Linked DNA regions of Homo sapiens: region 1 is linked to region 2. The links come from fine-mapping of genetic effects on gene expression. A gene starts in region 2. The other region holds a variant in brackets. All regions are shown on one strand. Distances are from middle to middle.

The links.
Region 1: its variant is fine-mapped to the expression of AXL in whole blood (INTERVAL, PIP above 0.99).

What each region holds. Positions count from the first base shown.
Region 1 is chr19:41,330,893-41,333,790 of GRCh38, forward strand. It overlaps TGFB1 (transforming growth factor beta 1), which reads right to left. Exons shown (of 7, transcript NM_000660.7): 6 at 1,236-1,389; 7 at 1-318. The coding sequence ends at 160. Among named protein-coding and RNA genes, the nearest start is that of TGFB1, 22 kb to the right of the region's middle. The variant G/A (reference allele first, on the strand shown) is at 1,409.
Region 2 is chr19:41,217,385-41,220,282 of GRCh38, forward strand. It overlaps AXL (AXL receptor tyrosine kinase), which reads left to right and starts at 1,839. Exons shown (of 20, transcript NM_021913.5): 1 at 1,839-2,093. The coding sequence starts at 2,009. RefSeq lists an enhancer at 980-1,804 and a silencer at 1,413-1,552.

The DNA.
Region 1 (2,898 bases), 110 kb after region 2:
CAATGACACAGAGATCCGCAGTCCTCTCTCCATCTTTAATGGGGCCCCAGGTGGGCTTGGGGCACGGGTGTCCTTAAATACAGCCCCCATGGGCAAGGCAGCGGGGGCGGGGCGGGGTGGGGCCGGGCCTGCCGGGGCGGGGCGGGGCGGGGCGGGACCTCAGCTGCACTTGCAGGAGCGCACGATCATGTTGGACAGCTGCTCCACCTTGGGCTTGCGGCCCACGTAGTACACGATGGGCAGCGGCTCCAGCGCCTGCGGCACGCAGCACGGCGCCGCCGAGGCGCCCGGGTTATGCTGGTTGTACAGGGCCAGGACCTGCGGGCGGCGGGCGGGGTCAGGGCTCAGGGCTCGTGGAGGGAGGAAAACGGCCCTCCACTGCCCCATCCCCCACCCGCTACCGCGCCAGCCTCTCTCACTTCGTCTCTCCCCGCATCCCCTCTTCCCATCTCCAATTCGGTCTCTCTTATCTTCTAACATCCTATCTTATTCTGTCTCTCCCCACCTGTCTGATTTTCTTTTTGTTTTGAGACTGGGTCTCGCTCTGCCACCCAGGCTGGAGTATAGTGGCACGATCATGGCTCGCTGCAGCCTCAACCTCCTGAGCGCAAGCCATCCTCCCGCCTCAGCCTCCGGAGTAGCTCCAACCACAGGCAAGCGCCACCACTCCTAGCTTTTTTTTTTTTTTTTTTTTTTTTTTTGGTAGAGATGGGATCTCAGTCTGCTGCCTGGGCTACTCTCGAACTCCTGGGCTCAAGCGATCCTCCTGCTTCAGCGTCCCAAAGTGTTGGTATTACCATCGTGAGCCGCCGCGCCCGCCTGATTTTCTTTCTCAGTCTCTGTCCCTCCTCATCTTCGCCTCTTGCCTTGTTGTGTATCTGTCTTTGTCTCTCCTTGGCCTAACTCTGTGTCTGTATCTGTCTCTCTCATTTTGTCTCTCCATTTCTGCGTTTTTCCTTCCATCTCCCTGTCTCTCTTCTCCCCTTCACCCCCATCCCTCTGTTACTTCACTCTGTGGGTCTTCATAGCTCATCTCCCTCTGGCCCCTGCTCAGAGCCCCTCTCTAGCTTCCTGCCTCTCTCCCCATCTCTTTATTCATTCCCCTCCCCACCCCATCCCTCTCTTTCTCCCCATCCTGCCAACTCACCTCTCTGACTTTACTTCTCTTTCTCTCTCCTCTTCCTCCGTCCTGGCTCCCCCCAAGCGCATCTCGTAGCCCGGTGGGCCAGACGTACCTTGCTGTACTGCGTGTCCAGGCTCCAAATGTAGGGGCAGGGCCCGAGGCAGAAGTTGGCATGGTAGCCCTTGGGCTCGTGGATCCACTTCCAGCCGAGGTCCTTGCGGAAGTCAATGTACAGCTGCCGCACGCAGCAGTTCTTCTCCGTGGAGCTGCAGGCAGGAGAGACGC[G/A]TCAGGGGCAGGGAGGGGCTACCACCATAGAAGCCACATGCCCCTCCTCCCCAGGTGCGTGTGTCACCCTAGGTTGCCCCCCCAGCCCTATCTCCATCTGGGTCTCCCTTGCACCCACTGTGTTAATAACAACACAAATAGTCATGATAATCACTAACACAGATTAAGCACTTCCTCCAGTGCTAAGAGCAATGTAATAATTAATTTCACGCAATGCTTAAGACAAGCCTGTAAGAAGCCAGATGACCATCCACGGGGGGGCTAAATAAATCATGGCATGCCACACCCTGGAACATACAAAATAACACAGCTCCATGTAAACTGATCTGCTCTATTTGTGCAACAAATGTTTATTGAACTACTACTGTGTGCTGGGCTGGGATCTACTGTGGACTGAGGACAAATGAAACAGATAGAAATAGGCTAGGCATGGTGGCTCACACCTTTAATCCCAGCACTTTGGGAGGATGAAGTGGGAGGATCGCTGGAGTCGAGGAGTTCGAGGTTGCAGTGAACTATGATAACACCACTGCATGCCAGCCTGGACAACAAAGTGCAAGACCCTGTCTCTACAAAATTTTTTTTCAATTTTTTTAAAAAAGAGACAGAAATCTCTGCCCTCCATGGGCATGCTATAAATTGTCTTGTCACTCCTCTGCTCTGAACCTGGCTCCATCTCACGGCAAATGCCCAAGTCCTCACCGTGAGCCACAAGGTGCTATCAAATCTGGCTGATCTCAACTCCCTCTCTCACGCCTACTCCACTCCAGCCACACTGGCGTCCTGTCTGTTCCTCAGACAGTCTTATTTCGGGGCTCCTGCATCTGCTGTTCCCTCTGCCTGCCTTGCTAGTCCCACAGATACCCACTCCAGCTTGTTCCTTCACTTCATTTCTTCTTTTTTTTTCTATTTTTTTTTTTTTTTTTTTTTGAGACAGAGTCTCACTCTGTCTGCCAGGCTGGAGTGCAGTGGCATGATCTCGGCTCACTGCAACCTCCGCCTCCCAGGTTCAAGCGATTCTCCTGCCTCAGCCTTCCGAGTAGCTGGGATTACAGGCGTGTGCCACCATGCCCGGCTAATTTTTTTGTCTTTTTAGTAGAGACAGGGTTTCACCATGTTGGCCAGGCTGGTCTCGAACTCCTGACCTTGTGATCCGCCCACCTCAGCCTCCCAAAGTGCTGGTATTACAGACCTGAGCCACTGCATCTGGCCTATTTATTCTTTTTAATTTGTTATTCTTTTTAGAGACACGGTCTCACTATGTTGCTGAGGCTGGTGTCGAACTTGGGCTCAAACGATCCGCACGCCTCGGCCTCCCAAAGCATTGGGATTACTGGCATGAGCCACCACACCTGGCCCCTTCACTTCATTTAAACCTTAGCTCAAATGTCCTTCACTCAGGGACCCTTAACTCCTAAAGCAGTGTCTGGAATGCAGTAGGTACTAGTAAATATCAGTTACATGACTGAACATCACCTCCTCAGAGATAC
Region 2 (2,898 bases):
CGCCTGTAATCCCAGCCCTTTGGGAGGCCGAGGCGGGCAGATCACGAGTTCAGGAGTTCCAGACCAGCCTGGCCAACATGGTGAAACCCCGTCTCTACCAAAAATACAAAAATTAACCTGGCATGGTGGTGCACACCTGTAATCCCAGCAACTCAGGAAGCTGAGGTGGGAGGATCACTTGAACCCAGGAGATGGAGGTTGCAGTGAGCCGAGATCGAGCCATTGCACTCCAGCCTGGGCAACAAAGCAAGACTGGGTCTCAAAAAAAAAAAAAAAAAAAAAGACACAGCCCAGGGAGACAACGGTGAAGGGCCCTAAGTGGCCAGTGACAAGGAGCTGGGAGCTTGCCCTGAGGGCAGCAGGAGGCCATGGGCAAGCAGAGAAGGGACAGGGTAGGATTTGACTTTCAGAAACAGTCCTCTGGTTGCTAAATGGGAGAAAGGAGTGACAGTAGAGGCAGGAGAAGGCAGGATCAGACGGGGGTGCTGGGAAGGGGCAGGTAGAAGAGACATCAGGAGGCCAAACAGATAGGACTTTATGATGCACCGTAGGTATACCAGTACCCAAACACAGGTGGCCAAGAGCAGAGGGATAGACGCCCAGCCTCCTCCTCACAGACATCCAGGCATGCAGAGCCCTCCACGTGCCAAACACACAGGGCCGAGGAATGGAAGTGCAGCAGAGCCGATACGCAGGCAGCAGATCTGCAATAACCAGGACACACAGTCCCACCAGAAGGAGAGAGCAGTGGAATGATCAGGGCTCACTGCAGCCTCGATCTCTTGGACTCAAGCGTTCCTCTCACTCCAGCCTCCCTAGTAGCTGGGACCACAGGCACACGCCATGATACCTGGTTAAGTTTTAATTTTTAAACTTCTTGTAGAGATGGGGGTCTCAGTGCATTGACCAGTCTGGTCTCGAACTCCTGGGCTCAAGCGATCCTCCCACCTTGGCCTCCCAAAGTGCTGGGATTACAGGAGTGAGTTACTGTGCCCGGCCAACAACTATTCTTATTCCCATTTTACAGATGGACAAACTGAGGCTCAGGAGGCCAGTCACTTGCCTGTAGCCCACAGTTAGTGGTAGCACTGGGATTCCAACTTGGGTCCCCTTCATGTCGCCTGTATTTGGTGTCCCATTTAGGCGTCCATGCAGGTTTTGGCGTGTCTGAAGATCTGTGTCTCCCCAAGTAAGTGTCCCCCATGGATGCCCACCCAGCCGTGTCCTCCTGTCTCTGAGGTTTCTCCAGGAATCGAGCTCCTGGCCTGGCTTGTCTGAGTGTGTCTGTGGGCCAGTAGCATGCCCCTGCCCGTCTGGGTCCCTCTGCGTGTCTCTGCTTGTCCTAGCCTGTGTGTGTCAGTGACGTCTAAGAGTGTGTGTGCGTGCGTGCGTGCGTGCGTGTGTGTGTGTGTGTGTGTGTCCTTGTCCGAGGAGCCGAGAGAGTGAGGGGGAATGAAGGGCCAAGGAGGCCTGGCTGGGGCTGGGCTGGGGGTGGAGGCGGGGAGAGGGGCGTCACGGCCTGAGCTGAGAGGGGAGTGGAGTTCTGGAGGAATGTTTACCAGACACAGAGCCCAGAGGGACAGCGCCCAGAGCCCGGATAGAGAGACACGGCCTCACTGGCTCAGGACAGGGGGCACAGCCACCAGGGTCCCCTTCCCCCTCCTCAGCTCCCTCCCTGGCCCCTTTAAGAAAGAGCTGATCCTCTCCTCTCTTGAGTTAACCCCTGATTGTCCAGGTGGCCCCTGGGCTCTGGCCCTGGTGGGCGGAGGCAAAGGGGGAGCCAGGGGCGGAGAAAGGGTTGCCCAAGTCTGGGAGTGAGGGAAGGAGGCAGGGGTGCTGAGAAGGCGGCTGCTGGGCAGAGCCGGTGGCAAGGGCCTCCCCTGCCGCTGTGCCAGGCAGGCAGTGCCAAATCCGGGGAGCCTGGAGCTGGGGGGAGGGCCGGGGACAGCCCGGCCCTGCCCCCTCCCCCGCTGGGAGCCCAACAACTTCTGAGGAAAGTTTGGCACCCATGGCGTGGCGGTGCCCCAGGATGGGCAGGGTCCCGCTGGCCTGGTGCTTGGCGCTGTGCGGCTGGGCGTGCATGGCCCCCAGGGGTGAGTGATGGGGGCTCCTTGGGGCAGGGATCCCCTCGGAGGGGCTGGGGCAGGGGTAGGAGGTGGGGGATGATGGCAGGTGTGGGGGGCCTGGGCTGGCTTAGGGAGTTTCCTTGGGACCACAGAAAAGGGACTTCAAGGGAGGGAGACACAGACTCAGAGACACCAAGTGCGGCAGAGGGAGAGAAAGACTGAGAGAGGAACTGAAGGGCAGGGGGGACAGAAGAGAGGACCCGGAGAGACAGACAGACAAGGAGAAGCTGAGGGCAGGGGTGGGGGCTGGACCTGAGAAGGGGGCCATGGGGAGAGGGGCTGAGCTGAGGGTCGCCAGGAAGGAAGAAATCTTTCCGAAGGGGCACCGAGTCAGGCAGTGGGATGAGGAGGGCTCTGGAGCCCTGGGGGAAAACGCTTCTCCCTGCCAACACCACCCCCCTGACCCGCCACTTGTCCCTACCCCACCAGTCCACTCCATCTCTGGGGAGGAGGCTCTCACTTTGTCTCTCTGTCTCTGCCTCCAGCTCTGCTATCTCTGTGGGTCTCTGTTTCTCTCTCTTTCACAGTCTCTGCCTTTATCTCTCCCTGCTCTCTGAGTCTCTCTCTCTCTTCTCAGCCTCCCTCTGTGACTGTATCCCCCCTCCGCCCCCACCTTTTCTTCTCTCTTGAGGGCTGTTTCTTCATTTTTTCTGTCTTGCCTTGTATCTGTGCTCCTCTCTGTCTCATCTCCCCTGCCTTTCTCTGGCTTCTCCCTCCGCCACCACCCTTATCTCCCCCCACCACCACCCTTATCTCTCTCCCCCAACCCCTG